Regions from separate parts of the Homo sapiens genome. Here regions 1, 2 and 4 are each linked to region 3. Evidence: fine-mapped expression QTL. A gene starts in region 3. Each other region holds a variant in brackets. All regions are shown on one strand. Distances are between the middles of the regions.

Region 1 (8,106 bases), 580 kb after region 3:
CAGATCTGCATGCTGGAACAATGCCCCTAGCTGCTCTGGGGAGGACAGGTTGGAGAGGGGCAGAGTGGGAAGCCCGGAGGCTACTGCAGCCTCAGATGAGCCATGGTGGAATCTGGACTGGGGAAACAGAAGCGATGCTGGAGAGAAATGGACTATTGGAAAGATATTTAAAAGCTACCCAAGCTTTCTCAGGGGAGTGGTTAGTGGGAAACCAACCCAGGGCCCATTTCTGCTACACAGAGGCCTCGGTGCATTGCTTTATTGTCTGAAATTAATTGTAAATATTATTCAAATGTACCACCCAATGCACAATTATATTTCTCAGGGGAGCCCTCTGAACACATAATAAAGCCCTATAAATAATACATATATTAACCTAAGAGGAACAGAGGCATGTTAATGCTGCAATTGCAGGTTGTGCTGTGGGGACTTTATACAGATGAGATGCCAAGCACTTGGACTTGGGGTTTGACCTTGGGGGTCACCTGAGTTCTGTCCTGGGGAATCTTCCAGAAGTCTCTCCCCCTGGGATATGGGGATACCCCCAGACAAGTCAGGCAGCTACTGCTCTAGGTATCTAGTCAATAGACAGGTGGGGGCAAGATGAGAGTTGGTGAGGGAGGAAGAAGCACAGGTCTATAAAACACTTACCTTGTGCTCAAAGATGCAGAAACAGCAACAGCAGTAATAATAGCAAATACTAATTCAGCCTTGTCTAAGTTTTGGGCAAGCTCTTCAGTTTCATTGTCTCATTGAGTCCTTGCAACAAGGATTTCACAGTAGGGGTATTGCTATCTCCATACACAAGTGAAGAGATTGAGGTTCAGAAAGGTGAAGTGACTTTGCCCGATGCCACACAGCTGGTAAGTGACAGAGCTGGGATTCAAACCCCAGTATGTTTATCTTGAAAGCTCCTGCTGTTTTCCCCAGAAATGTGCAAATGCAAAATGTCCTCTGTAGAGACCCTTCCCTGGAGAGAAGAGGACAAGAACATATTCTCTTTCCCATGTCAAATTTTGAAGATGTGGGAGTCGGGGAGTCTGAGGAATTGCTTTTTCCTTGAGAGGAGGAAATTGCATTTGAATGGGCTTGTCACTTTCTCACAACCCTGAGAATCTTAGGGTTTTTGCGTTTGGAAAGGACTACTTCCTCAAGTTTGTCCCTTCCTGTTCCCCCATTTCACAGATGGTGAAACTGAGACCTCTTTGCAAATAAGATGGAGACCACCTGCCTCACTGACTGCTGGGAGATGAGAAGTGTGTGAAAATGCTCACCTGAGTCACTCTTAAAACACCATCACCCCAGAGACCTGAGCATTCACCAAGCCACCCTGCTTCACTTCTTAGTTTATTGACAAGCACTTTGGTGCTAATCTGCTGTAAAGAATTTCTGCCCAGGGTCTGGGCTCCCCTGAGGAGTTTCCAGCAGAATCCTGGCTGAAGGGGAGGCGGGAGATCTTGGCAAAAACTGCTGTAGGGCAGACATGCTTTGTTTGGGGGCATAAATGTTACTCTTAAAGATTGTCCTGAATATGAGTGAGGGATGCTCCCCATCTTGACCTAGATAGTGGTTACACGGGGTAAGGGGTGGGGAATGGGGGTTCATCTGTAAAAACCCAATTATCTGTACATTGAAGACGAACGCACTTCACTATAGTAAGTTATGCCTCAGCAAAAGTCTTTGTAAAAATAAAATAATTCATGTTGTCTGCAGAAATGAGTTCCCACCTCCACTGGTACCCAGGACAGGTAGTGGCAGGACAGGACCAGGTCTGACGGTTTGTCCTTGATTCAAGAGAGCATTTTAGAGGGCAGTGGCTCCTGCAGCATCCATCCAAAGAGGTAGAGTCTCAGGAAGGACTAAGCCCTCCTGGGGGCCTCCCCAGCCTCACCACCTGACTCAAAGGGACTTTGATGTTTATGACACCGGGTCAGGTAGGCTCAGGAATCAGACTGCGAGGGCTCGAATCCAAGCTCTGCTATTTACGTCAGCTAAGGGCAGGGTTAGAGTTAGGCTCTGTGACCTTGGGCAAGCTATTCAATGCCTCCGAAGCCTCAGTTTTCTCCTCTGTATGACAAAGGGCATGATAAAGGTTTGCAGCTGTGAGGATTCAGTGAGATTGCTGCACTTTAGCGTTTAGCAGGTGCCAGGCTCTTTCATCTGAATATGCATCGGCTTTCTTGCTGGCCTCCCCACTTCTGTCTTTGCTCCCTCAACCCACACTGTAGGAAGCAGCCAGAGTGAGCTTTTATCACAGAATACAGTAATCCAGAGCCCTTACTATGGCATCAAAACCCCTATGTGATCGGCTACTGCCTCCTTCTCTAAGTTCATCTCATGCTGCTTTCCAGCTAGGTGATCCTTTCTGCCTCTCAAGCAAAATGAAACAAACAGATCAACAGCAACAATACAGCCAAGATTGGTCCCACCTCAGGCCCTTGCACTTGCTATTCCTGCTGTTTCTGGGCCCACTTGCCTCTTCCCTTTGCATGACTGATTCGTCCGCCTCCTTCTGGTCTCAGTCCAAATGCCATCTCCTCAGACAGGCCATGCTAAGGTAGCCTCCATCCCTACTCGCTGCCTATCAGATCCCTATTTTGTATTAGTGTTTTCTTTATACTAGTTACTGCCATCTGAAATCATATTATTATGTGTGTATTTAGTGGCCTTAAGTCTGGCCCCTACTTGGATCCAGCAAGATGGCAGGGACTTTGGCCACCTTATTGTATCCCTAGCAGTGCTTAGCCCAGAAAAGCTGCTCATAACTTCTGGTTGAATGAATGAAGACATTATCATAAGCTGACATTATTTTTGCCATCATCATCATCGAGTTTCATGACAATCACTTTTATAATACACCGTTTCCAAAGTATTTTCACATTTTTTTCCTATCTTAATGAAACCTGGGGAGGGTGGGATTTTTCCTCATTTCACCAACATGGAAACTGAGGTCGCAGGTCACTTAGTTTAGAAGTGGAGGAGACACAGTTCTTTACTTGTGCCATTAAGAGTAATCACAGGCTGGGCGCGGTGGCTCAGGCCTGCAATCCCCATACTTCGGGAGGCTGAGACGGGCAGATCGCTTGAGGCCAGGAGTTTGAGGGCAGCCTTGTCAACATGGAGAAACTCCGTCTCTATTAAAAATACAAAAAAATTTAGCTGAGCATGGTGGCACACGCCTGTAATCCCAGCTACTCGGGAGGCTGAGACACAAGAGTCGCTTGAACTTGGGAGGCGTAGGTCGTAGTGAGCCAAGATCACACTAGTGCACTCCAGCCTGGGCAGCAGAGTGAGACCCTGTCTCAGAAAAAAAAAAAAAAGAGTAATCACAGACAAAGGAGGTTTCTATCAAGTGCTTCCACCTCCCTTGGCCTTTTCTTTTCCCTGTTGTCTGATTTATTACAGCCAGAAAATAAAGGAACCAGATGCCTCCCTCCTCCTCATATTGTTTTGTAGTTCTTTTCCGGACCAGGTTTCTGTTAAGGGTTTGGCTGGTACCACTGTGACCACAGACTTCCTGTGTTTATCCCTTCACTTAGAAATCATAGTCAACTGGGCATTAAAGTCTGTGCTGGACACTGGATGACGCTAAGACACCAACACACAGCCAAATACCTGGGGGTCCCGTGGGGCCCAGAAGCCTAACACAGAAAGAGGCAGATCCAGGGTATCTTTTCCCTGGTTTCCACTATGCAGATGTTTTCCACCTTCAGAGCAACATCAAGATGAGTGAACAAGTCTCCAGTTTGCCTCCAGATGTTGGGACTGCGGTTGTGGAGCAAATTCCATACAGGGAGGT[G/A]GAATGGAGGCTCTCAGCCTTGCCTGCTGGCAGATGATAGCCTGGTGGATGGCAGGCAGTTTACAATACCTAGCCCACTGCCTGGGCACCAGTGCCTTACTGGGAAGGATTGACTTGTGATGGGATTTTAGGGATGGTGACAGGCAGCCAGAGGGAACTCCACATTGGTCAACCTATTTCATCCTTATCAGAAGCTTAAATGGTAAAACCACCTTGTCTTCAGAAACGAAGAAATGCTGGGTCAGCTGAAATTCGAGCCCTCACTGTCAGAGAAGCTAAGCAGAAACATCTTAGAGGTAGGGACAGGGGACAAATTTCAGACAAAGATCATGGTCAGGGCAAGCCTGCCAAGAAGGCTGCACATGAAGCCTCAGATCAGAAACCTGATGGAGTGGATGTATCCAGGCACATTCTACTACAACTTTGAAAACAGACCCATCCTCTCAGGTTGGAACACCACCTGGCTGTGCTACAAAATGAAAACAAAGAAGGACCCCTCAAAGCCCCCTTTGGACGCAAGGATCTTTGGAGGCCAGGTCTATTCCAAGCCTGAACACCACCCAGAGATGAGATTCGTAGATTGGTTCTGCAACTCGAGGCTGCATCGTGACCAGGACTACCTGGTCATCTGGTACATCTCCTGGAGTCCCTGCTCAGAGTATGCAGGGAACGTGGCAGAGTTCCTGGCCAAGGATGGCAAGGTCACCCTGACCATCTTCGTTGCCCACCTCTACTACTTCTGGGAAGCAGATTACCAAGAGGAGCTTCACAGATGGTGTCAGAAAAAACAGTCCACATGCCAGCATGAAGATCATGAACTATGATGAATTTCAACACTGTTGGGACAAATTTGTGTACAACCAAAGAATGCTATTTGATCCTTGGAAGCAACTGAATACAAATTATGCATTACTGCACAGCATGCTGGGGGAGATTCTCAGACACATTCACTTACAATTTTACCAATGATCCTTCAGTCTCTGGGCAGCACCAGACCTACCTGTGCTGCAAGGTGGAGTGCCAAAACAATGATGCCTGGGTCCCTCTGGACCAGCAACAAGGGCATCCTACCCAGCCAGGCTTTGAATAATCTCAGTTGCTATTAAGATTTCCATGCAGAGCAGTGCTTCCTGTACCTGATTTCCTTTTGGAAGCTGGACCGGGCTCAGTGCTACAGGGTCACCTGGTTCATCTCCTGGAGTCCCTGCTTCAGCTGTGCCCAGCAAGTGGCTACATTTCATTGGGAGAACAGATGTGTGAGCCTGCACATCTTCGCTGCATGCATCTATAATTATCTCCCAGGATATGAGGGGCTGTGCATGCTGCAGAGGGCTGGGACCCAAATCTCCATCATGACCTCCGGAAGTTTAGGCACTGCTGGGTCACCTTTGTGGACCACCAGGGATGTCCCTTCCAGCCCTGGGATGGACTAGATGAGCACAGTCAAGCCCTAAGTGGGAGGCTGCAGGCCATTCTCCAGAATCAGGAAAACCATAGGATGGACCTCAGACTCTAAAGAAGGCAGAAAACCTGTGTTGAGCAGCAGAATGGAAATCTTTCAAGAAATGCAAACAGGCCATTCACCACTATCTCTGGCTGAGCAGTGGACACTAGCAAAGCAATGAGCTCCTGACAAGTAGTTTTTTTTTTTTTTTTTTTTTTGAGACAGAGTCTCGCACTATTGTCTGGGCTGGAGTGCAGTGGCACAATCTTGGCTCACTGCAACCTCCGCCTCCCAGGTTCAAGTGACTCTCCTGCCTCAGCCTCCTGAGTAGCTGGGATTACAGGCGCCCGCCACCAAGCCTGGCTAATTTTTTTTTGTATTTTTAGTAGAGATGGGGTTTCACTATGTTGGCCAGGCCGGTCTCGAACACTTGACCTCATGATCCACCCACCTTGGCCTCCCAAAGTGCTGGGATTACAAGTGTGAGCCACTGTGCCTGGCTGACAAGTAGATTTTTAAAAAAATCAGAGTGAATTACTTTTAATCAAAAATTTATACCATGTTTCAAGGATACAGTAGTTAAGATTATGGTCAATACACACAGAAAGTTTTCAAATTTACTAATCCAGTGACCATTTGATTTTATATGTAGAAGAATAAAATGAAATACTAAATAAAAAAAAAACTTCTAAAATTTGGTGAAGACAAGGCTTGGCAACGCCAAAGAAACTTTTTTCTCCTTGAAACAGGGTCTGGCTCTATAGCCCAGGCTGGAGTGCAGTGGTGTGATCATGGCTCACTGCAGCCTCGAGCTCCTGGGCTCAAGTGCTGTCCCCACCTCAACCTCCTAAGTAGCTGGGACTACAGGTGTGCACCACCATGGCCAGCTAACCACAGAAACTTTCATCTGTTTATTCTTTCTTTAGGCACCATTAATACCTAAGGCAGGTAGAATGGGTCCCAGAAAGACACAATTGGTAGCGGCTGATTGTTGGCTTCGGTCATTGCCCATAGGTCAGCTGGTACAGGATGCCTTAAGGTGAAAAGGAGTGAGGGTGCATGAAGAATAATGAGCACAGGGAAGAGAGAAGCAGAGCAAAGTACCAGATAAAATACCGGCCAAGCACAGATGAATGTCTTCAAGGAGCTGTTATGTTTCTCTGCACAATGTAAATACCCTTGCTATTTCAGGATGGCGGCTGGCCTGCTCAGTAACACACATGTTCCAAATAAAGATTTTGCATGAAAGTAAAAAAAAAAAAAAAGAAAGAAACGAAGAAGTGAAGTTCAGTGGGAACAAGTAAGCTTCCCAGAACCACACAGAATCTACCCATTGATTTGTATTGAGGATTTACTATATGGCAGGCAATGTGCTAGGCTCTGGGGATACAGCTGCAGATGCCATCCTGACCTTCATGAATCTTGCAATGTATTGGCATGCAGCAGAGCTGAGATTTGAACCCACAGCTGTATAACTGTGTGGTTTATACTCTTTTACTACATATCCTTCCTGAGTTAAATAAGTTAGATACAGAGGAATTAGGACAGAGCAAAGGGAAAGACTTCATGTTATGAAGCCTTGAACTTGTCAGGAGTTAGAGAAGACTCACATTTTGGCTAGGGATTGCTGAGTTGAGATTGATTCTGGGTTTTATGACGCACCTGTCAATAACTGCTCTCCCATCCCTGAATTCTCAAAACAGAAAAGTGACCTAATCCAATAGCTTTTCCTTCCTTTGAAAAAGCAGTAAAAGATGATGCTGCTTAACCCAAGTGAATGGCATGCTAAAGGTGAAATTGCAGGAACTGAGGCAGGTTAAAGGATAAAGAAACAGGGAATAGGTGGAGGCTCCCTAGCTTCTTCCATTCTCCCTATAGGGACGATTGGTTTTGCAGGTTATTAGAATCTGAAATGTCCCCACTTTCTGATTCCTGAATTCCTTGGGCATTCTATCCTTTTATAAACCTCATTTCGGTCTGCTGGCCACAGAATCCTCACAGATATAGATAGATGTATGGAAACAGCTAGTTCAATCTTAACATGTCAGAGATAAAAAGCCCTATAATCAGTATTGTCAAGCCCATCCCAGGATCTCTGATGAAAAATTAGTCTCACAATACATTAGCAGTGAGACATGGCAAAAACTTGGACATGTCCATGCCCGGCTCCGGTTTCCCACTCCATGATGTGATCCTCCATTTCATTCAACTGCTCAGTCATCTTCTCATATTTTGGTTCAGACACATCAATCCCTGTAAACTTGAGAAGCACAGAAACAGAAAATCAGTATATCTTTAAAGGCTAGGAATATATATTACACGAATAAAAGTCTTGATACCCTATGCTATTTAACATTTATCTTAGGAATCACGGTTTAAAATAAACCAAGCAAAGTTTGAAAGAAATAAGATTATATCAGTTAGAATGCATTGGACTGCAAGTAACAGAGACCTCATTCAAAACGGTAGAATCTATAGGAAAAGTGCATTCATTTGCATACTAAGAATGCCTGGAGGTTGAGAACTCAGCAACTGAATATTGGCATCAAGGATCCAGAGTGTTTCCTTCTGTTTGCTCTGTCATCTTCAGAGGATTGGCTTTGTCCCCAAAATGACATATCTCCTGGTCAAAAGATGGCACTCACAGTATCAGATATTGCAGCTGCCCATGGCATCAAGTAGAAGAGCCATTGATTATCTCAGAGTGTTGCAAGGGAATCTGCCCCCGCCCCCAACCCCCTAGCAGAACTCCCCTCACACCTTTTTGGCCAGAACTGGGTCACATGGCTACTGCTAAACCAATCACTGATAAGGAAAGAAGATTGGTTTAGACCAATCAGGATCCACCCAGGGGACACAGGAC
Region 2 (8,106 bases), 170 kb after region 3:
CCAGGTTCAAGCACTTCTCCTGCCTCAGCCTCGTGAGTAGCTGGGACTACGGGTGTGTACCATCATGCCCGGCTAATTTTTATATTTTTAGTAGAGACAGAGTTTCACTGTGTTGGCCAGGCTGGTCTCGAACTCCTGATCCTCTTGCCTTGCCCTCCCAAAGTGGGATTACAGGCGTGAGCCACCACACCCGGCTAGGTTCTTGCTTTTAAGAAGCTTCAACAACTGTGCTTGATCTCTCCAGGGGGGTGCTTTGTGCATGAAGTGCTTTAGCACTGGGGTGTGAGAGATAGTTTCACCCTAGGCTTAGAAGGTAAGGAAGACATCACAGAGAAGGTTCGGTTTGAATTCAGGTTTTTTTTTTTCCTCTGCGTAGGAGCTAAAGATGAAACAGAAGAGGAGCCAACCCAACTTTTAAACTGTTAAGTTAGTAGAGGGGCTCTGTCCCTAGGAGGGCAAAGAAGTAGGTGGTAGGCACATTCCTCCTTCAGACTCCAGGATGTCTAGTTTAGGTGGATTTTTGTAGTATTGCAGAAATAGAATGTTTGATTGGAAGATAAACAAATCATTTATGCATAGTGTGAACTAACATTATGAGTCAAAAGAAGCTGAAGGATAGCTTTTTGGTAGAAAATCCTACATTTCTTGACCCTTTCTTTCACTTTCAGTGTGAATTTGGCAAAATTGGTATTTTCCTTGATTGTTATGGGGAAAAGAACTAGAATAAGCACTGTTTTATATTTTAGAATCATTGTTTTAACTAGATCAACATGGCGTCTTTCGTTTGTATCATCTTTAGGAAAAAGCAGTGACTTCTGTCACGTTGATGGAAATGAGACTGCAGAATGTCAGCAGATCGTACGTGGATAGTCCCCTTCATGAACAGTGTCTCTGTTTTTTCACTTGGTAGGGTGGGATCATTCCTCTGTTCTACAGTTGTAGAAATTGAAACCAAATTGAGTGGTTGTCCAAGACCGTGAGGTTGTTTGTGAATTAGAACTTAGGTTGCTGAGTCCTTATTTGATTTGTACATGTATATTTTTATTAATTTTTTTTCTACTGAGTGTGAACGAATTTTTCTTTAGGGGGGAGGATATAGAATCTGTGGTTTAGCCGGGCGCGGTGGCTCAAGCTTGTAATTCCAGCGCTTTGGGAGGCCGAGGCAGGTGGATCACCTGAGGTCAGCAGTTTGAGACCAGCCTGGCCAACATGGTGAAACCCTGTCTCTACTAAAAATACAAAAATTAGCTGGGCATGGTGGCACACGCCTGTTATCGCAGCTAATCGGGAGGCTGAGACAGGAGAATGGCTTGAACACAGGAGGCAGAGGTTGCAGTGAGCTGAGATAGCACCATTGCACTCCAGCCTGGGCGACAGAGCAAGACTCTGTCTCAAAAAAAAAAAAAAAAAAAAAGCTGTGGTCTAATGGACACTGAATCCTTTGCATTCTTTCTCTGGGATTAGAGAGTTTAATAACAAAAACAGTAACTTGACAGGGCTTTCATTCTGTCAGCTCAGAGAATTGTCTTAGGTTTGGAAAGTACTTGGTCTATACCATGCCTTGTGAGGACACAGTGACAGTGATGAAATCGCAGCAGTTCACATTTGTTGAGGGCTTCCTTTAAGTGCCAGGCGCCGTGCTGATAAGTGCCTTCTTTCATGGGCTACTTGAGAGGGAATGGCAGTCTCCTGACAGTGCTTTTCTGTGTGATCCACAGTCTTTGCCAGCACCTGCTGGATTTGCATTGGCTGCATGTCTGCCTTACTGTGCATTGCTGACAGGCAATTTCCATTTCTACACATTGTGGTACTCTGTTTTAGACAACAGTGGCAGTGCCGGTAGCCCTTTGTACAGATGTGGACATTTGGCACTTGGTAGCTTTGGTGTTAGGGGCAGAGGATTTTGTTCAGAGCCAGCCAGTGTCCTGACATGTCGTGGGATGCCCATTCACTGCCTCCTGAAATAGATTGTCTGATGCCTGGAGCACCTTCAACTGCCAAGTGTATGGGCCGTGAAAAGCTGGGGGACAGGACTGGGAGGGGTGGAGGATGCAGGGGGAGGGCACCAGGTGCAGAACAATGACTTCCAAATTATGTCACGAGCTGCCAGCCACACGAGCACGGCCTGGCCTCATTACCACATGAAGTGCCACAGAAGGGCCTTTTCATTTTCTCCTAGTGACTGTGTTATCCACAGTTTTGCTGGGAGGGGTGGGGTGGGCACCCTGCTCACCCCCAGTTAACAATGGAGCACAAAGTCCTGGCAGAAGGAACTTCCCAATGTACCCCGGGGCTATTTTTGATGACAGTGAGTGGCTGTGACTCACTGAATGTGTGCCCTGGCAGATGATGGTTTCCACCCCACCCCCTCCCCTGGAGATGAGCAGGCAGCCTTTGTGCGTTTCCTTGGCCAGCTTCTCCTGCTGCTGCAGTTCACTGATATGTCCACAGCAGCCGGCCCGCAGGCCTGACAGGGCTCTGACAGTGGTTTTTACCATATATGGCCATCAGAGCGCTGTGGCTGTCAGCCGGCCAGGATAATTTCCTTCCTTTGCTTTGATTGGCTGCACGGGTGGCTCAGAGAATGGTGGGATCTGGGAGTGTGTGGTGAAGAGAAGCCACTGAGTCAAGTGCAAAGAACGTTTAACTCTTTACTGGGTTTGTGGAGCGTGCCAGTCTGTGCTAAGCAGGCTGACAATTGCTGCCAGCAGAAGCCCTCAGTGTGTAAACATGGTAACCCCAGTCTGGGAAAGCTGCTGTATCTCCGGTAAAGAAAGGTATCTGAACACACATTACTCTGAAATAAACTCAAGGTGTCATGAACACATTTCTGGAGTCACGGTTTTGCCCAGAAGCCACCTTATAACCACATGTAGCAAATCATCTGCTCCTGCCAAGTTGAATATCTTCGCCCATTAGGGGTGGGACCTGAGTTGAGTCTGGGGAAGAATGAGCTGAGAGGGCATGTGATGGGACACATGTCTGCTTTCTTGGAGGAACGGTGACTTGGGTTTCATTTCTGGCTGACTGAATTGAGTCTATACTGCAGTCCTCTTGCTTGTGTGGAACTGACTCAGCCATGGAGCCCAAGGCATTAGCCCCTCCCACCCCCCAAAAAAAGTTGTAATATTTTTCTATTTATCATCTCCACCATCCAAGGAGGGTGGATTTTCATTCTGAGACCTGTGGATTAAACCAATGCAGAGCTGCAATGGGAAGGGTTAGCCCTGGAGCTCTTCAGCGTTCACAGAGGGTTTCAGTAGATCAATCTCCAATGTCATTTGCTTACTACGAGGGCTTAGACAACCAGTTTCTCTATTTTCTGATTTGATATTGAATGCTTTAATTTTCCATATTGCATTTACATCTGTAGTTCTTCTGCTTTTCAGCTTTTGCTTTCTAGCTCAATTTTATTTTAACTAGATTCTACCTCATCTTGGGTTCCAAGTTTTTATTTGTTCTCAGCCCAGAAGCATCATATGGAATTACTTGTCTGCAATAATGAGCAGAAAGCATTAGGTTTTCACTTTATAAATTCTTTAAGTCAGGAAGTTAGGAAATACAGCTACTCTGGTTGCT[A/G]TCGCATATTTGGGCAAGGTTGAGTAAGGAAATGTTAACTTTTCCGTGTTTTTGCTTTCTGATAATAAAATGTTTGTAGTTTTACAATAACTTCCCTCAAGTTCTTAATTGATTTTAAAATATGGTCTATTCAGTATTAAACCCAGTTTTTAGAGAGGATCTGTGATGCAAAAATTATTTGCTTGGCATTTTCACTTCTGTCCAAAAAGACTGCTGTTTTTTACTCACAGGCAGGTGAAGTCTCTGTAGGCCCATACTCCCTCTCCCCAGCAGCTTTTGTTTCTAGCTTACCTTACCTTACAGGGTAACTCAATCTGTAGGGTTTATTCCAGAGCACCTCCTTTTACCTCAAGGATGGTATTTCTGGTTCCCTTAAAGTAAAGCCTCCTCAGAATGTTTTATTCCTGGGCCATGAGCTGTCACTCTCAGGGACCAGCCTGTGCACAAGTCATATATTGTGTGCACCCGTCTTTTTGGTCTGCTGCTGAGTCTCTGTTTTCCATGCCGCTGTCCCCTTGTCCCATGACCACAATCACTCTAGCTCCTCCCCGTGGAGCAGCAGGGGCTTAAGAAATTCAAACAAAACATGTATCCACATAAATAATACTGTCATAAGAAAAAGGAAGTTGAAAAAAATGGAAAACCCACTTCAATAGATACGCTTTTGACTCCTTTGAACTCTGCACAGTGTGAATGGAGCCCTTATGCTTGGGCTGAAAACTTTTCCTCTACTTCTGAGCACATGTGTGACTTAACATTCTCCTTGCTGAGTTGAAGAATTCTCAGTATGTATCACCCAAAGCCAAAAATAAGTTATGATTGAAATTTGGGCACATAAAGTGATTTTGATACTCATTTTTTCCTAAAATGAAAACTTAGATGAATATTAGGTAGGGGTTTGAACAATGTGGAAATCTTTTAACTGTTCTTTGAGTCAGGTCATGTAAAGTATCTTTGTTTGCCTTCCCCAGGATGGGGTGGGGGCTCTTAGGCCCTTACATCTTCGGGTGGTGTAACCAGTCTGGATAATAGGCATAGAGGACTGCAGATCAGGAGATGGAAAAGTACTGGAAGTGAGACAGCTGCCTGAGTTGGATTAGATAAGGGAAACCGTGTAGAAAGCAGTCTGAATCCAGCACCCTAGGAAGGTGTGGGTTTATATGATACACTCCAGAATGCAAACTTGAAAGAAATTGTGTGTGGGATACCTTGAGCTTCTTAAAGGGGAATATTTGATTTGACTTATCACTCGAATGAATGTGTCACTTTTTATCACCATGGGAATTTATTACTTTGTGAAAACATACATTAGTTATGAGAAAGAGTAGGCCTGCTGGGTAAAGCGTTGTGCGACTTTAACATAATGTTACATTTCCTTTCTTGCAGGAACCAGTGATTATCAGATTGATCCATCTTTTTTTGTTTTTTCAGAGATGGAGTCTCGCTCTGTTGCCCAGGCTGGAGTGCAGTGGTGCGATCTCAGCTCACTGCAACCTCCGCCTTCCGGGTTCAAGTGATTCTCCCACCTCAGCCTCCCAAGTAGCTGGGATTACAGGTGCCCAACACCATGCCCGGCTAATTTTTTTTTTTTTTTTTTCTGAGACAGAGTCTCATTCTGTCGCCCAGGCTGGAGTGTAGTGGTACGCTCTCAGCTCACTGCAACCTCCGTCTCCCAGGCTCAAGCAATTCTCCTGCCTCAGCCCTCCCGAGTAGCCGGGATTACAGGCATGTGCCACCACAACGGGCTAATTTTTGTATTTTTAGTAGAGACGAGATTTCACCATTTTGGCCAGGCTGGTCTCGAACTCCTGACCTATCTGCCTGCCTTGGTTTCCCAAAGTGCTGGGATTACAAGTGTGAGCCACCGTGCCCGGCCTGTATTTTTAGTAGAGATGAAGTTTCACCGTGTTGGCCAGGCTGGTCTTGAACTCCTGACCTCAGATGATCCACCTGCCTCGGCCTCTCAAAGTGCTGGGATTACAGGTGTGAGCCACCGTGCCCAGCTTAGATTGATCCATTTTAACACCAATTGGTAGTGTCTTCAACCACAAACCAATATGTGGGTCAGAAATAATTATGTGAGGAATCATTCTTACATGAAGAAACAGTCATTCTGAATGATCTTTTGTAATATGTAGGACATATTGGAAGCAAAATTCCCAATGTTGAATTTCGAGAGTTTGGGAAGGTGAACATGGCTGCGGTACATGTGTAATACACCACTAGCTGCTTTAAAAACACACCCCAGCACAGAACTTTATTGAGACGTGTCTGTCAGAAATTTTCTGTACATGTTTGTGTACATTAACAGTTTTTTTTATTGTACTCAGTACTGCCCTCAATATATAGGATGAGTCTACTTCTTAAATGTGGATTCCTTTTTAGAAGGAGATGTGAGATCGATAAATAAGATATACTGGGCTGGGCACGGTGGCTCACACCTGTAATCTCAGCACTTTGGGAGGCTGAGGTGGGCAGATCACCTGAGGTCAGGAGTTTGAGACCAGCCTGGTCAACATAGTGAAAAAAAATACAAAAATTAGCTGGACGTGGTGGCGTGTGCCTGTAATCCCAGCTACTCAGGAGGCTGAGGCGGGAGAATCGCCTGTACCTGGGAGGTGGAGGTTGCATGCAGTGAGCTGAGATTGCACCACTGCACTCCAGCCTGGGTGACAGAGTGAGACTCCGTCTCAAAAAAAAAAAAAGGGTCAGAGGGGATACATTGTTAATAAGTGGAAGCTGTTGTGATTTTCCAGTAAGATTGATAGGAAGTGCCCTTACAGCTAAGCAATATCATTTCTTCTTTTTTCTTTTTTTAATTTTAATTAAATTGTTATTATTATTATTGAGACAGAGTCTCGCTGTCACCCAGGCTGGAGTACACTGGCGCGATCTTGGCTCACTGAAACCTCTGCCTCCCAGGTTCAAGCGATTCTCGTGCCTCAGCCTCCTGAGTAGCTGGGACTATAGGCACACACCATCAAGCGCAGCTAATTTTTGTAATTTTCGTAAAGATGGAGTTTCATCATGTTGGCCAGGCTGGTCTCGAACTCCTGACCTCAAGTGATCCGCCCGCCTCAGCCTCCCAAAGTGCTGAGATTACAGGCGTGAGCCACTGCACCTGGCCTTATTATTATTTTTTTGAAACAGGGTCTTACTCTGTCACCCAGGCTGGAGTGCAGTGGCGCGATCATAGTTCACTGCAGCCTTGACCTCCTGGGCTCAGGTGATCCTCCCACCTCAGCCTCCCAAGTAGCTGGGACTACAGGTGCGCACCACTACACCTGACTAATTTTTATATTTGTAGGGACAGGGTTTCGCCGGATTTCTTAAGATTTATGTTGAATTTAGTGTGCCTAAAGAGGAATGTTTTTTGCTAAGTCATTTAAGTTATTGAACTTTCCTTTTATAGCAATTTGATAAAGTTATATTTTTACTGATGCTTACATTTTGATTTTCATTCACTTTCTCCCCGCAAAATGCCCATTGGAGGAAATGTTGCCTAACTCTGTGGGTTTAGTTGAAGTATCAGTCTCCAGGAACTCGGCTGTGTTGTAGCTACTTCAAGATTTTTAAGTGTTTTCCCCAAAGCAAATGATAGTGCTTGTATCTGGGACGGTTTCTGCCACGGTGAAGGTTGCTGGCTGGAACATGCTCATAAGACATCACCCTTAGCTCTGGCCAGCCACGTGGAAATTGTGCCATTACACCTCTCCCTTGTGCCAGCTGTATACATGCTTTGGAAGCTGAATTTTCCTTTCGGCTCATGTTGCTTGGCTCTGGGCAGGCTGTACTGGATCTTTCAGATAATAATGTCTGTAGGCCAGTGTCCTGACCTATTTCACCAATGTCCCACGAGTTTATGAACTGGCTCTGGAGCAGAGCCTTTGGGAAACTTGGTGCTGGCCATTTTTGCCACCTGTTGGGTTGACATGCTAGTAATCCCAATCATTTGGAGTTTTAGCTAGAAAGGTATAACAAAAGCTATCCTATGGCATGTGATTGGGACTAGTAAGTAATCAATGAATCAAAATTTATTTAAAGCAAGGAGTCTAATGGCTATTACATTTTCAGCTAAACTACTTCAATTTCATGCCAGAAAAGTAGTAATATTCTAGATTAAGCAACAGAGGTGATTTATCCCTAGTGAAATAGTGGACTGATCTGTTAGTAAAGTGAAGTTTTTCTATCTCTAAGCTTTAGAAGATTGGTGGGAGTTTCTTAAATAATTCATTTTTTAGTTTAAAAAGATATCTAAAAGCTGGCTTTAATTCTTGTACATCTTCCTTTCAGCCTCTGCATTCATTTAAATTTGCTGCTTAGAGGTTCAGGTAAACTGTGTTGTCACCATGACATGTGGTGGATGTCTTTCTGAGTGGCCCCTCACAATCTAGCTAATTATACATGGATTCTTTGGTTTGTTCACTACATGATAAATCAGTATGTGTCGTGCAGACGAATGAGAATTGTGTTCTTATTAGATCCTAGTGCAAAATGTCTTTCAGAATGATGTTTCCTCATCTTTAC
Region 3 (8,106 bases):
AATTTGATACTTTGGCCAGGTGTGGTGGCTCATGCCGGTAATCCCAAAGCTTTGGGAGGCCAAGGTCGGGGGATTGAGTGCCTCCAGGAGTTTGAAACCAGCCTGGGCAACATAGCAACACCCAGTTTCTGGCAAAAATAAAGTCAGCCAGGCGTGGTGGTGTACACCTGTAGTCTCAGGTACTCCGGAGGCAGAGGCAGGAGGATGGCTTGAGCCCAGAGTTCAAGGCTGAAGTGAGCTAGGATTGCACCACTACACCCAGTCCTGGGTGACAGAATGAGACCTTGGCTCTTAAAAAATTTTTGTAAATATTTTGACCAGGTGCAGTGGCTCACACCTGTAATCCCAGCATTTTGGGAGGCCGAGGCAGGCAGATCACTGATTTCAGGAATTTGAGACCAGCCTGGCCAACATGGTGAAACCCCATCTCTACTAAAAATACAAAAATTAGCCGGTCATGGTGGTGGGGGTCTGTAATCCCAGCTACTCGGGAGGCTGAGGCAGGAGAACTGCTTGAACCCAAGAGGCAGAGATTGTGCCACACTGCACTCCAGCCTGGGCAACAGAGCAAGACTCTGTCTCAATTAAAAAAAAAAAAAAAAAGCAAATTTTAAAAATATTTTATTCATCATGGATTTGGCATTAATTTTGATTTTCTAAAATATTGCATTAAAATACTATTTATCTTAATCATTGAGTTTTTGGGGGCACCCTCTTACATTTTGCACCCTCACGCTGGTCCCAGCCTGATTCCTGAGGCTTTTCTTAGGGACCGTTCCTGGCTCTACGGTAATGGGACAAGACAGAGAGATGGACCCATTATGATAAGGCAGACTGACACTTGCTGTGTGTTTAAGGGTAGGGTGAGGGCTACGAGATCCTGGAAATGACACTGCTTAAGGGGCAGGGAAAGCTTTTTGGAGGTGATTTCTAGCAAGAGTTAGTTGTGGGGAAGAAAAGGGCTCTCAGCTCTAAGAGGAAGTGAGAAGGGGTGGAGACTGCCTCCAAAAAAGTTGGGGTGAGTGGAAAAGCAGGCCGGCCAGAGCAGGGGGATTAGGATTGGGGGCCACGGACGGGTACCAGGATCAGATCTAGGTAGGAATTTCTTGGTGAAGAGGCCATTGCATTTGTATAGGCAGTAGTTCTCAGACTGTCGTCCCCAGACAGAAGCATCAGCATTGCCTGTGAATTTGTTAGACGTGCAAATTTTCCAGCCCTACAGCAAACCTTGTGAATTCGAAACTCTGGGAGGTGGGGTCTAGCAATCTGTATTTTCTCCAGGGGATTCTCAAACTCTCAAATTTGAAAACTAATGTAAGAGAGACATAAAAGAAAAATAAATCATAATGAAACAACATGCATTACAATGTGGAAATGCTCAGCCACTACTCCCTTAGAGGACACAGGGGCATCTCAGAAGCATGGGCCTGCCAATAATCAATGTGCTTGGATTTGAGAAATAAAATATTCTCTACTCAACTGAATTTTGTCCACAATTTTCCCTTATATTTGACATTTAAGTACCTATGACTGTCTGTCTACCTAGAGTGCAGCTACAGTTGTGGGCACCTTGTGTGGGATGCTCTAATATTAGCAGAGGCGTTGCCATCCATTACCTCCTTTTCCCTAAGGATGGATGAACAACTCTTGACAAAACTCTCAAGCAAAACAAAGTGTATTTTCCCTTCCTTTCCCTCCCCTCCCCTCCTCTCCCCTCCCCTCCCCTCCCCTCCCCTCCTCTCCCCTCCCCTCCTCTCCCCTCCCCTCCTCTCCCCTCCTCTCCCCTCCCCTCCCCTCCCCTCCTCTCCCCTCCCCTCCTCTCCCCTCCCCTCCTCTCCCCTCCTCTCCCCTCCTCTCCCCTCCCCTCCCCTCCCTTCCCTTCTCTCTTTCTCTCTGTCTTGCTGTGTCACACAGGCTGGAGTGCAGTGGCACGATCTCAGATTGCTGCAACCTCTGCCTCCCGGGTTCAAGTGATTCTCCTGCCTCAGCCTCCTGAGTAGCTGAGATTATAGGTGCCCGCCACCATGCCTGGCTAATTTTTTGTATTTTTAGGAGAGACAGGGTTTCAACATAGTCACCTTTCTGAAAATTCAGTAAAAAATACCAGGCTAGCCATGGTGGCTTCTGTCTGTAATCCCAGCACTTTGGAAGGCGGAAGCAGGAGGATTGCCTGGGCAACATAGTTAAACTTTTTTTTTAAAGGAGCTGGGTGTGGTGGTGTGTACCCGTTGTACTCAGGAGACTGAAGCAGGAGGATGATTTGAGCCTGGGAGATGGAGGCTGCAGTGAGCTATGATTGTGACATTGCACTTCAGCCTGGGTGACGGGAGTGAGACCCTGTTTCAGAAAAAAAGTGAGAGAAAGAGAGGAAGGAAGGAAGGAAGGCAGGAAGGAAGGAAGGAAGGAAGGAAGGAAGGAAGGAAGACTAGTGTTGATGCATGAAATGGAGTTAGGTTCTGGCTTCAAATTACTATAAATGGGTTTTTCACCCAGGAAACATTTTGTGGGAATGGAGCAATTCTTGTTGGGGAGACTGTCCAGTGCATTGGAAGACATTTAGCATCCAAGGCTCTTGCACTCTAAATGCCAGGAGCTCTCCCCCTCCATCAGCAAGACAACCACAAACATTCCCACAAATCCCCTCTTAGAAACGCTCCGTAGAAGCTACAGTGCCCCCCACTAGAATCACCTTTGAGATGAATCGTGCTGAGACCCTGTGAATAACATGGAGGAGGTCACAGCCCCAGGACAGAGGGAGGGACGGGGAAGAATCCAGGAGGCTGCGTGGGTTTCCTGTTGGGCAGTAAGACAAATTTGCTAAGCTGCGGGGCAGGCTGGGACCACTGCGTTTGCGAGTGCTTGTGCAACATGCAGAGGTTGGGGGTGGGAGCCGGGAGATGAGATTTTGGCTAAAAGAAAAGTTTCCTACTACTAAGTCAAGCCAGAATTGCCTTCTTGGTATCTTATTCCATGTTCCCCTCTCCATCCCCATAACTGGTCACCTCTCCCCGGGACAACAGCAGCAGCCTCCTCCCTGGTCTCCCTCAGCCCTCTGCCCCGTGGTCCCTCATCCACGCAGCAGCCGGAGCGATCTTTCCAGAGAGGATGGAGACTCCAGCCATTCCTCCCCTCTTCCCTTCCCTGAGTGCTGGCCTCCGGTTGACAAACTTCTTCCTGCTTCAGGGCACGCTGATCCCCCCTGCTTGGAGAGCTGTCTCTCTGTTCTTTCACCTGTTAATCCTGCTTATGCTCAAGCCCAAGCCTCAGAATAAAGCTCTTCTGGGAAGCCTTCCCTGACCTCCAAGGAGTTGGCTGGGTTTCAGAACACCCAGAAAGAATTCATTGAAAAAGATTAGCAAAATACTTTTTTAAAAACGTGCCTAATAACTTGATTAACCTCTGCAAAATCAGGCGAATCTATTTTGCTTACTGTTTTTGTTTTTTGTTTTTTGTTTTTTTGAGACCGAGTCTCGCTCTGTCGCCCAGGCTGGAGTGCAGTGGCGCGATCTCAGCTCATTGCAACCTCCGCCTCCCAGATTCAAGCGATTCTCTTGCCTCAGCCTCCCGAGTAGCTGGGACTACAGGCGCGCACCACTGCGCCCAGCTAATTTTTGTCTTTTTAGTAGAGACGGGGTTTCACCATGTTGGCCAGGATGGTCTCGATCTCTTGACCTCGTAATCCGCCCGCCTCAGCCTCCCAAAGTGCTGGGATTACAGGCGTGAGCCACCGCGCCCGGCCCCAGGACGTCTTTTATTTCCTGGTCGCTGTACAGTCCTGTCTGCACGGTCGCCGGGCCTCAGTTTCCCCAGGCAGAGCAGCGGGCAGGGCCCCTGGGGCGTACGGGCTCCGGGCGGCGCGCGCGCCCCCGAGTCCCAGGCCTGATAGCGGGGCGCGCGGGCGGGGGCGCGTGTGTCGGGCGCGCGAGGGACGTGATCGACCAGCCGAGGCCTCGGGCAGCCCTCAGGGCCCCCGCGCACGCGCGCCTCCTCGTCCCGCCCTGCCCGCTTCCCCGCCCACTCCGCGCACTGAGGCCTGCGCGCGCCGGCGCGGGAGGCGGGAGCTGGGGGCGGGGGCGGTGGCGACGCCGAGGGGGAGGGGCGGGCCCGGCCCGGCTCGGCCCGGCCGCCCGCGCGCGGCTCCAGGAGGCCCCGGGCCCGGCCCGGGCGGCGGTGGCGGTGGCGGCTCTAGCTCGAGACGTCTGTGGCGCCCTCGCACCGCGCCGCAGCCATGGCCCTGGTGACCCTGCAGCGCTCGCCCACGCCCAGCGCCGCCTCCTCCTCGGCCAGCAACAGCGAGGTGAGCCCCGGGCTCGCCGCGCCCGGCCTGGGCCGCCGGACGCCGCGCCGAGGCCGCCGGAGCTGGGGCCGCGCGTGCGGGGCAGGGGGGCGGCTGCGCGGGCTCCTCGGGGCCCCGCCGTAGGAACAGAGCCGGGCAGCCGGACCGGGGTGACCGTGCGAGGACTGTGTGCGATGTGACCCTGTCTTGGGGAGCTGTGCGGGGACTTTGTGTGCGGTGTGACCCCTATCGGGGGGCGACTTTGCAGGGACTGTGTATGCAGTGCGACCCCTCTGGGAGTGTCTGCAGGATACTGTGTGTGCGCTGTGACCCACATCAGGGGGTTACCCCCATCTTGGGGTGACCCCTGTTAGGCGGAGACTGTGTGCGTTGTGACCCCTAAGGGTGACTGTGCAGAGACTGTGTGTGCAGATGTGACCTCGTGATTGTGTGGGGACTGTGATTTCAGGTGTGACCCCCATCTTGGGTTGACCTCTGTCTGGGGAGGACTGTGCGTCTGTCGGGACTCCCATTTGTGAGTGACTCTGCAGTGTGACCAGGGTCCAGGGGTGACTGGATGTGCAACTGGGACCCTTGATTGGGTGACTGCGTGAGCCGCTGGTTCTGAGACCTGTGGCCGGGGTAGTTCTAGGCCCTTTGCCTGTATGCCTGGCTGTGCGATGTGAGATGTGACTGTTGCTGACCTGCCGTCCGGGGACTGTGCCAGCGTGAGACAGGCATCTGGGAGTGCCCCTACAAACGTGTGAGATTGTTTCCCCGCCTGCCGCCTCTGGAGTTCTGTCTGTAGGCGTGCCCGTGTCACTGTGTGACGGTGACCGAGCGTGCTGTGGGCTCTGTGTGGCTGTGTTTCACGTCTGTGCGTGCAGCCTTAGTCTGGCTTTTCCTTTCTGTAACATCACTCAGGCCTGTGTGTTTATGTGCATCTATCTTTCTGTGTGGCTGTGACCCATTCTGGGTGATTGCATAGGTGCATTCCTGGGTTGCGTGTCCTGGCACTGTGCGCGTTTTTGTGGGTCTGTGTGTGGCCCAGGTCCGTTTGCCTGGCCACTTTTTCCTCTGGGGTTGATTGAGGGCACTGTTGCCCTCTTAGCCTGCAGGGTTGGCCTGGCTTGTCCTAGGCTGGGGCCTTGGGCCTCTGAGCAGGTCAGCCCTCTGTAGCTGCAGGGATGACCCTCTGGTCGCGCAATCTTGCCCACCATCTCTTGAAGAACCCGTCAAGGCCTCTGGTCTAAACTCTTACCTATAACAAGGCTGAGTGTCCGCCTGCAGACCCTTAGCTGTGTTTAGAGAAGACTGGAGGAGCGGCCCTGCGGTCCCAGGCCCAGGAAGTTCCGCAGCCAGCATCTGGGCTCTTCAGCCCCTTTCTTTGTGGGAGGGAGTGGGGGAAGTTGACTGATAACACGGGGGAGGTTTGTGTGTCTGAGAGAGACAAGAGAATAATGTTTGCATTTGGCTTGACAGCCCTGTCTCCTGGTAGGGTAGTTCTTCAGCCTTGTTTTGCTGGGATTGGCAGGGACATTTTCAGAGTGGCTGGGAAGTTGAACCTTCACAGCCCCCTCCTTGGAGAGGAGAGGCCATTCATGAGTTATCTATACACAGAAGGTTCTAGTAATCCCCCTCTACACGCTGATTAGAGGCAAAAGAACACTGGCGATCAATAGCCTGCTACTGAGAAGTTAGGTTGCAGGAGCGCCTTTCCTTCCCACAGCGAGGAGGGGCTGTTTTCTGTTCCGGTCACTGCTGTCTGGCAATTTATGCACTTAATCTCAGGTTCTCATCACAAAAGTTTATGTGAGGTAAGGGGAGAGGTTGGCTTCAGGCTGAACCTGTCAGCCCAGATTTCTGATTCAAAACCCCATGTTCCTAGAGTTACTTGCAACCTAATCTGTTCTTGTCTTACGCATTTTAAGGTCTTATTATTTTTTAGTTACATACCATAAATTTGCCATTTTAAAGTGTACAATTCAGTGGTTTTTAGTATATACATGAGATTGTGCAACCACCACCATCTAATTCCAGAACATTTTCATCCTCCCCAAAATAGGAACCCTGTACCCGTTAGCCCTCACCTGCAGCCTCCCCCTGCCCCATTCTCCCTAACCTTAGGCAACCACTAATCTACTTTCTGTATCTATGGATTTGCTTATTCTGGACATTTTATATAAATGGAATCACACCCTGTGTGGCCTTTTGTGTCTGGCTTCTTTGACTCAGCATCACGTTTTCAAAGTTCATGCATATTGTAGCATGTGGCAGTACTTCATTCCTTTTCATGGCTGTATAATACTCCATTGTATGGATGTACCACATTTTGTTGGACATTTGTGTTGTGTCTACTAGATACATTTTCAATTATTATATAAAGCATTATTTTTACCAAGTGCCAATGACCCTGATAAACATAAAGTAAAACTCAGGCAGCTTTTATTTGATCATAGCAAAGCTGCAGCATTCATTGCTTGGCTTTGAATGCGCTGGGATGTTTCCCGAAGGCAAGGCCCTCGTTCAGATGTGTTGAGGTGAGAAGCAAGGTGGGATGGAGACAGCAAGTGTGTATGGGGTCAGGAGACCTAGGCCAGGCCGGTTCTGCCCTGGTCCGCCCTCGCTTGAGTTGCTTCCTGTGTGTGGGCCCTGGCTCATCTAAAAGGACTGAATTACCTCTTTCATGTGTTCCTTGGCAGATGTAGTTTCCCTGGAATAACTGACCTGAGATGGCCTTTCATCTGAGAACCTCAGAGAGTGACCGAGAGTTAAATGATTGTGAAGTCCGTACCCCCAAGTCACGTCATCACTCTTCAAATTGCAACTTCATAATGAGTCAGACACTTAGGGCAGTGCTTTCCTGACACAGCCAGGCCTGCTGCCGGCGTGGGAAACGGGGGATCACAGCCCTCAGTCCTAAGGCTCTCTTTTCTCTTTTAATTTTCTTTTTTTCCCAGTCTTTGATTATGTCACTTATGTCATTTTCCTGTGAATCTTATCTCAGTTCCTTTGTGTGAACAGGCAGAGCACAAGAATAGATAAATCAATAATTTTCAGGAATGGATCATAACATTGTTATTTCTGAGAAACATTCAAAGTGACTAATTTTCATGGGCAGATCTCCAGGCACTTTTTTGGATTGGACCAGAGTTTCTCAACCCACTGTTGATACTTGGGACCAGAACATTCTCTCTTGTGGGGGGACCATCCTGTGTGTTGTGGGATCCTGTCCTCTACCCACTAGGTGCCAGTAGTGACCTCCAGAAAAATGCCTCCAGACATCTTCCAATGTCTCCTGTTGAGAGAACTTGCTCCGCATTGAGAACCACTGGGTTAGACCCCAACATACTCTTTGTCAATTTGTTGCTCTTGTGACTTGTTTTGTGGTCATTGAAGCCTTCCCTGCTCTTTCCACTTCTCCTTCAGTGTGGGGTAGGTGCCTCTGCAGAATCTTGTATGTACTTCATCTTAATATGATGTAGGGACTCCCAGGCCCTCTGGTGTACGCTTTTTTTTTTTTTTTGAAACGAAGTATTGCTCTTTCACCAGGCTGGAGTGCAGTGGTGCAATCTCGGCTCACTGCAACCTCCGCCTCCTGGGTTCAAGTGATTCTCCTGCCTCAGCCTCCCAGGTAGCTGGGATTACAGGTACATGTCACCGTGCCTGGCTAATTTTTGTATTTTTAGTAGAGACAGCGTGTCACCTTGTTGGCTAGGCTGGTCTCGAACTCCTGACCTCAGGTGATCCGCCCACCTCGGCCTCCTGCAGTGCTGGGATTCCAGGTGTGAGCCACTGCGCCGGGCTGGTGTACTCATTCTTGGTTGAAG
Region 4 (8,106 bases), 27 kb after region 3:
TGGAGAAGGCATAAACACTGGAAGACAGGCATGACGTCGGGAGGCAGATGGGAGGAAGGACACCATGAGCCGAGAACCACAGTAGGCTTTATGGGGACAGTGCTATAGCTGGGGATAGAACAGAGAATGCGAAGCATGGAGAACAGGGGGAATAGTGCGAGAGGTAATACAAGAATGGTTTTTTATTCTGAAATACTGTTTTCTAACTATATTCTAAGCCCCTAAGGTCAGGACATAGCAGATGAATGAAATTTAGGTTAACGACATACAATGGCTAATTGTGGCAACCCATAGAGAGTTAGCACAAGAAGTTTGGACTCTAATCAATAGATGATGTCACATGGCTAAAAGTTCTGGGGCTGGGAAAGAATGTCATGAGAGCAATGGTTAGCGGCTGTGCAGAGTGGGCGAGAGGCCAGGGAGGCGCTTGTCCTGATTCTTCTCACCAGGCCAAAAGCTTCCGGAGCTCTGCTGTCCTATACCACAGCTGATAGCCTCATGTAGCTAATTAAACTTAAATTTAAATTAACTAAAATGAAATAAAATGACAAACCCAGTTTCTTGGTCACACTTACTGCATCTTAAGTGTTCAGTCAACACATCTGGCCAGTGGCTCCCATACTAGACAGAGAGTGGGTAGAGAATACAACAGCCCTGGCCTTCAGGGACATTCAGAGAATGCAGCACAGAGCCGGGTGCACCGTGGGGCTGCTTGGATGTCGCCTGGCTCACGGGGGTGAGGAGGGCCAGAACTGGGTGGTGCCTGAGAGACCTGAAAGGAGGGGCCTCTGACAAAGTTAGGACTCGGTGACAAATGACTGTGGTATGGGGCTGCATACCATAGACAGGGCTGAGAACCTGGGACAGTCGGGATAATCTCTTCTCGGAATTTTTGAGCTGTCTCAGAAACATTTCCTTCATGTGCCTGTTATTTCTGGCGTGTTTGGCTGTCTTTGCTGCCATAGCATTTCCCGCACAGTGCAGCCTTTATACCTTCTGCCCTCGTGAAGGGGCTTAGATCCTGGTAGAGCAGATGATGCTTGGAGGAAGATGCATTAGCTCCAGCTTCCATGGGGCCTGAGGGCTCTTGGGGTCATCAGGGAACTATCTTAAAATTTGCTAAACCAAGCCAAGACACATCACTTGCTGTCTTATTTAGGGAGAAAAAAAAAAAAAAGCTTGCTTTTGCGAGCTCGCTGGTCAGTTCAGCTGCTTGCCGCTACCCGTTGGTTTGAAGGAGAGCTGTGTAGCTGGCTCAGAGAATGTCTCTTACTGTCTGAAATACTTTTGGACATTCCTTCTCTCTGAGAGAAGCCTACGCCTTCTAGCCAAACAATACATGTTCCAGCAGCAAAGATATTTGTAATGAGCCCTGCCAGCATTCCTTGTCTGTGACCCCTTTCCCTAAGTATAACGCTCTGCAGAGCTGGAATTTTTCTATGCTCAGCATTATGTGTTTAGGGGGGTACAATTTGGGAGCTCCGGTTGACAGGTGTGTCCCTAAAGTTACTTGTTTTCTTAGGCTCTGAAGAGTGACATTTGGAACGAGGCCCTGCCATGTTGCACTGCAAGGCCCACAGTGAAGAAGAACGAGACCTTGGCCCAACTCAGGGTCTTTGTGACTTTTAAACACGAGTTCCAAATGAGGGAAGAACCTGTGGGAGAACCATGGAAAGAATTTTCCATCCGACCTGCAGTCTTTAGCTAATCTCTCTCCAAATGGTGAATTTTCGATCTCCTTTACATCTTTATCAACTTCACTTTGCTAGGCCTGGGGTTCTGAATCCATCCAGAGCCTCACTGAGAGTGGTTTTGAGGTCAGTTGATTAGCTTTCCACGTTGCTGCTATTGCTGCAGGTCAGATGGTGCTGCTTTCTGACCTATGGATTCTTCAGGAAGAGCACCGAACTTTTTCAGCCCCATTCTACCTCTTATTAGCCAGATGACCACAGACAAGTCATTTATCTTCTCCCAGTCTTGGTGGTTTCATTTTCTTTTCTTTCTTTTCTTTTCTTTTGGGAGGCGGGGGTGGGTGGGACAGAGTCTCCCTCTGTCTCCCAGGCTGGAGTGCAGCGGTACAATCTTGGCTCACTGCAACCTCTGCCTCCCGGGCTCAAGTGATTCTCCCACTTCAGCCTCCCAAATACCCGGGACTGCAGGTGCACGCCACCACACCCAGCTAATTTTTGTATTTTTTGTAGAGGCAGGATTTTGCCATGTTGCCCAGGCTGGGGTTGTTTCATCAGGGGAATGGGATTGTAAAAATTAAGTGGAAAAATGTAGGGACAAACTCTCTATAACTAGAAAGCTATTATTTACATATTTAAAACAATATATGTTGATAGTATACCAGGCATTCAGGTGCTGAGAATTTGTGATGTTGACAGTGCGATGTCTCAACCACAAGCATGAGGTTTGTTTCTTAGGTTTGCACATTCTGAAACTTGAATTTGTGAGTTCACTCAGGGATGATCAAGTTCTAAGAAACCAATTTACGCTAACCAAACTTATAAGGAACTGATATATAAAGCACAATTTGTAAATTGAGGTTTATGAACCCACAGGGGGGCCTTTTATGACAGAGGCCAAATCCTCCTGGGTTCACAATAAGGTACATGTAGCATAATCATCTTACTCTCCTGCCCCTTATGCCTCTCTGTTTACTGATCCTTCAGGGCCTCGCAGGCTTCATTTCTTCCAGGGAGGCCTCCCTGAACCCCTGTGTGTACGTGCATCTGCACCTTCCACCTCCTTCCACCGTGGAACTTGCTGCCTTATATCGAAGTTACTGTCCTGTGCCTGCCTGGCCCTCCAGTGTCACTCCAGACCAGGTGTGGAGTGGTCTGTGGCATGGGTGGAAACCGGGTCTGTTTCACTTCTAAATTCTCAGGCCTTAGCACTGACCGGACACAATAGACACTCAGCAAATACTTGTTGATCGAAACCGAATTAACAGAGCCTCCTTTTTGGAATGCTCGTTGGCACCCATCTTTCTATGCTGACAGCATTACATTAGTTCCTTTTTCTCCTAGAATTACCATCAAGTTCGCTGGACAATTGACAGTCCCCTCAGTAATCACCATGCAGAGTGGGGTACCATTGAGGGTTAGTTCTATCCAGGGAAAAGTGATTCCGTTTGTCTCAGCCTGTCCCATCAATCTGGGACCCTTTACAGGGCCTCTTCTTCAGGCTCATATTCTCTACTTTTTTTTCGAGATACAGCATCAGAAATCCTAAATTTGTACTATTTAACTCCCTGTTTCCTTAGGCATAAATTAGTGTAATAATGCCTGTCTGGTCTTCCACACGGTTTTGTGAAGATCAGATGAGTTGACATTCACCAGAATGCTTTGTCCACAGCAGAGTTTGTCAAAGGTCTGATCTGAGGTTGGTCTCGGTGGCTCACAGCTGTCACCCCAGCACTTTGGGAGGCCAAGGCGGAACAATCGCTTGAGCTCAGGAGTTGGAGACCAGCCTGGGCAACATAGCGAGACCCCATGTCTGTTTCACACAGCACAGGTCTGATCTGTTTTTGCTTTCACTGTCATCATTTCGTATTGTCATGATGCAGCGTCTCCCTTAGAGGGCCAGAAGAACATTCAGGTCTCTGAAAGTGTGTAGTAGAAGACTAGCATCTGTTTTACTGCTTCCAAAGAGAGTATTATTTTGTTTTTGACCCTAGCATGACCTCCCTTTATTGCACCTAATCACATCACCCACCTTCTGAGAGCACCATGCCTTTTTGTTGGTGTTACCTTTTACCAGCAGAAAACATCGACGTGTACCTATGTGAGAGGTATCTTTATGAAGCCCATGGAGAAGACTGTTTTCTCTGTGTCTTCTGATGTTGTTTGTTTGTGTGTTTGTTTTTGAGACAGTCTCACTCTCATCCAGGCTGGAGTGCAGTGGGGACTCCAGGATCACAATCTCCACTCAGTGCAGCCTCGACCTCCAGGGTACAAGTGATTCTCGTGCCTCAGCTTCCCAAGAAGCTGGGACTACAAGTGTGCGTCACCACGCTCAGCTAATTTTTGTATTTTTAGTAAAGACTGGGTTTCACCATGTTTTCCAGGCTGGTCTTGAACTCCTGACCTCAAGTGATCCACCCACCTTGGCCTCCCAAAGTGCCAGGATTACAGGCGTGAGCCACCATGCCTGGCCATGATGTTATTTGATTCTGAGGTTTTTAAAACTTGGCTGTGCATCAGAAGCACCCCCTGGAACTTTCTGGAGACAAGATCTGTCTCCCAGGTTGGAGTGCAGTGGTGTGGTCACAGCTCACTGTAGCCTTGACCTCACCAGGCTCAAGTGATTCTCCCACCTCAGCCTCCTGAGCAGCTGGGACTACAGGCACACACCACCAAGCCTAGCTAATTTTATTTTTATTTTTTTGTAGAGATGGGATCTTGTTACGTTGCCCAGGTTAATCTTGAACTCCAGGGGTCAACTGATTCTCCCACTTTGACCTCCCAAAGTGCTGTGATTACAGGCATGAGCTACCATGCCCAGCTCCCTGGAACTTTTTAAAAAAGTAGATGCCCAGGACTCATCACAGACCTTCCGAATTAGACTCTGCTGAGGCTGGACCTGGGCATGAATGTGTTTTAGGAGTTTGATAGGTTGTTTCAATGTATGACCAGAGTTGGAATTCAGGGGTGTTTGGATATTCCATACTGTGATGTTTCTATACCTACTATTTTTGTTCTTCAAGAAATGCTGTTTCTATGCAGCAGGGCAGACACCCAGATCACCAGCACATATACCCATTCCTTAAAGAGGATGGCTGTCTTTGCCCTTATCAGAGCTTGGGCTGGCTTGGCTTACCCTGTGCTCCATGCTCTGCAAATGTTTG[C/G]CTGTTTGGATGAATGAACAGAACCCTGTAAGGAATTCTAGGGGTTAATTCTAGGGGTTAATCAGAGTATATATGGTAGAATGTAAATTGGAACCCAGAAATATGAATTCCCAGACCATTGTTTTTACTTTTGTTCCCCACCGCCCCTGCCCAAGACAGTGTCTCACTTTGTCGCCCAGGCTGGAGTACAGTGGTGCGATCTTGGCTCACTGCAACCTCCGCCTCCTGGGTTCAAGTGATTCTCTGCCTCAGCCTCCTGAGTAGCTGGGATTACAGGCATGCACCACCACACCTGGCTAATTTTTGTATTTTTAGTAGAGACAGGGTTTTGCCATGTTGACCATGCTAGTCTCGAACTCCTGACCTCAAATGATCCACCCATCTCAGCCTCCCAAAGTGCTGGGATTACAGGAATGAGTCATCACCCCCAGTTTTTACTTTTCTTAAACCTTAAAGCGCGGCAGTCACCATGGGCGTTGTCCATGCTATCCCTGGTGATTCTATTTTGGAATTGTTGACGGGCTTCCTTCGTTTGTCATATGGAGAAAATACCTTACCCTGCAGAACTGCCAGAGTTCAATGACGTGGCGTAGCTAAGTACCTCCTACAGCCTTGGCCACATGGGAGATCCTCAGTAAATAATAGTCCTGTTGATGAGAAACTTACCTTGAAAGCGACTTCTTGGTCAGCGTGGCTGTGTGGTTTACAGAACTCCTTAGCCTCTATGCAGTGCAGAAGGGCCAAAGGATGTGTCCTGTCCCCCAACTATGACGGCAGTGGTGGGTAGGATAAGGCTGTGGGTCCCCTGCCCTTCTGATTTCTACTTGGGCAGATGGAAGAACCCCGGCACAGTCTCGTCTTCCTGGAGTTCTGTTTGCTTGAATGGTTCCTTCTCTCTCTTTCCCACGCATGATGCATTCACACACTGGGAAGAAGGACGGAAGATGTGATCCACATTCTGACTTCTCAGTGCCTTAGTGGCTTTGCCATTAGGCACCTGGGCAGGCATGAGCGGATGTGACCGCAGCATAATGGCTCTGATTTTCATTCTGGATGAGTAGAACAGCTGCTTAACAGGGGTTAAGCAGGTGGGCGTGGGGCAGATAGATGTGAGTCCAGCCCCATCTTGTAGAGATATGTGCTCCTAGGCAAGCTGGGGTTTCCTCACCTGCAAAACCAGAATCATGGTAATGTGTGTTTCACTTAATCCGTAGGGAGGATCGCTTGGTCACTTGTGAGCCGAGGGAAGAGAAGCCCCTACTCAGTGCTGCTTCCTTCAGGAATTGTTCCAGAAGTCACCAGTTAAATGCTCCCTCCTCCCTCTTGTAAACCCTAGCCGAGCCCCTTTCTTAGGGTACTTATTCCATTCTCTCCTGCGTCATGGTTATTCACATCCTGAACTTATTTCTCTCACTGAAAGAAACGCTAAAAACACAGCTCTTGGCTGGCTTGTGCCTGGAGGGTTTGGGATCACACCTCCAACCTTTAGGACCTTTGCAGCCTGACCTGCCTTGGGCACCGTGCGTATCCCAGAGCTCCTCATAGGTGTGCATGTGGTCCCCTCTACCTGGCGTGTCCCCTCAGATAGCTGTTAGCATGACTGAAGAATTTTCAGGATGTAACCGTGCTTTGAGTACGCAGAATAACTAACTGCGGCAGCTGCCCACGTCACCGTCACCGTTGGGTAAATGGATGCTGATTTGAAAGAAAGAGTCATCCTTCAGAATGTTGATTTGAATCGGAAGGGGGTCTTGTTGCTTGGGGTTGGTTCCTTGGGGCCAGTTGTTTGCCCTCACAATGTCGAATGCACACCCCGGTGCTTGTTTCTCCGGCCTACAGAAAAGCCCGTAGGAGTGCAGTGATTAGAGGAACCTCAGCTGTTTTGCTGAATGGCCCTCTTTCATCAGGATGTGCTGGGACAAGGGCCTTTTTCAGCCAAAATATCAGAGGAAGACAAGAGTTCCACAAGAGCCATTTGCTTTTCGGGTAGGACTCTGAGGAGGAGTTGGCTCCCCAGCCCTCGTGGAAGCACTCGGCAGCCTCCTGGCTTTTCCTGATCTCCATAGGGAGCAGATGGCCAGAGCTCGGAGGGCAGTTGTAGGGAGCGTTAGAGATGTGAGCACTGCAGCCACGAACCTCTTTTATTTTACCGACTTCTGCATCTTCCTTCAGCCAACCCACTGCTTCTGCTGTCCAGAGGTTTCCAGCTCAAATTAGTACGTATGACCACCCTGATTACTGGTTTCCTGCCATGGCTTGGTTTCTGGATGACACTGGCTGTTTATATTTTGGGGGCCTGGGGTTTTTTGAGGAGCATTGATTGAGGTTTTTTGTCTGTCTTCAATGCTTTGGAGAAACTTTAATCTTATGAAGCTTCCCGAATGGCAGTAATCAGTGTCCGAGAACAGATCTGTGTGGTGGAGATAAAAACATTCCAGTTGGCGGGTAGAGAGGGCAGCGGCTTTTTTTTTTTTTATCCCTCATCAAGATTTTTCTTACAGCGGTGGAGGAAGACATTTCCGTTTTGTCTGTCTGCGTCTGACCTTTTGTAACTTTAGTCACTCCTTTTAGGACACTCAGATCTTTTGTGAGAAGAGTGACTTCTGGGTGGCTGGGATGGATGGCTTGTGGGTTTGGGCTTCCTGGCCCCAGACACCTGGTAAAGTGAGCGTGCCATCACCAATGTGGATTTCTTCATGGACTTCCCCAGTGGGACACTTTGAGGGTCTGATGAATCGGGAGCCTGTGCCTCTGGGCATCAGAAGCTGCAGTCGTCAGATACAGTATTCAGGTCAGCCACGCAGAGGGCGCATGAGGCTCTGGGCCCAGAGTGAGCTCAGAAGAGAAGCCAGGAAGCCGGGTCACAGAGACTTTCTGCATCTTGTTTTCATAAATCCTGTGACTGACCATGCTCTGCGGCCTCCCACCCCACCCCCCACCCGGAGAGTCATGTCGTGCGGTTTCCTCTGGCTGTATCTCCTGACTGTATTTGCAGGACGCAGGGTGATCTCACAGCTTCGGGATAATGCGCTGCTACTTGGGCTTCCCTGCAGCTTCCAGTCTTGCTTTTTACAGTAAATGCCTGTTACTTGATTGTCGTGGGGGAACAGAGGCAGAGTGTTCCAGGGCCCCAATCAATGCCATCCTGACTTCATGCGTAGAGCAGGAGTCCCTGATTCTTATCAGTGTAGGAACATGGAGGAGGAACAGCTGGCCTTGTAAGTGATCACAGAGTGAAACCAGCCTAGTCTGTT

What was found.
Region 1: its variant is fine-mapped to the expression of SSH1 in lymphoblastoid cells (GTEx, PIP above 0.99).
Region 2: its variant is fine-mapped to the expression of SSH1 in whole blood (TOPMed, PIP above 0.99).
Region 4: its variant is fine-mapped to the expression of SSH1 in whole blood (INTERVAL, PIP above 0.99).

The regions. Positions count from the first base shown.
Region 1 is chr12:108,278,291-108,286,396 of GRCh38, reverse strand. It overlaps the pseudogene LOC196469. Among named protein-coding and RNA genes, the nearest start is that of CMKLR1, 57 kb to the left of the region's middle. The variant G/A (reference allele first, on the strand shown) is at 3,800.
Region 2 is chr12:108,686,103-108,694,208 of GRCh38, reverse strand. All of the region lies in intron 2 of CORO1C (coronin 1C), which reads left to right. Among named protein-coding and RNA genes, the nearest start is that of CORO1C, 41 kb to the left of the region's middle. RefSeq lists enhancers at 147-659, 1,373-2,054, 2,282-2,576, 2,055-2,736, 2,527-2,806. The variant A/G (reference allele first, on the strand shown) is at 3,580.
Region 3 is chr12:108,853,619-108,861,724 of GRCh38, reverse strand. SSH1 (slingshot protein phosphatase 1) reads left to right here and starts at 4,142. Exons shown (of 15, transcript NM_018984.4): 1 at 4,142-4,297. The coding sequence starts at 4,229. RefSeq lists a silencer at 3,673-4,412 and enhancers at 4,843-4,892, 4,945-5,446, 6,561-7,760.
Region 4 is chr12:108,826,225-108,834,330 of GRCh38, reverse strand. The region is part of intron 2 of SSH1 (slingshot protein phosphatase 1); the gene reads left to right. Among named protein-coding and RNA genes, the nearest start is that of MIR619, 6.7 kb to the left of the region's middle. RefSeq lists enhancers at 2,539-2,648, 6,100-6,671. The variant C/G (reference allele first, on the strand shown) is at 4,853.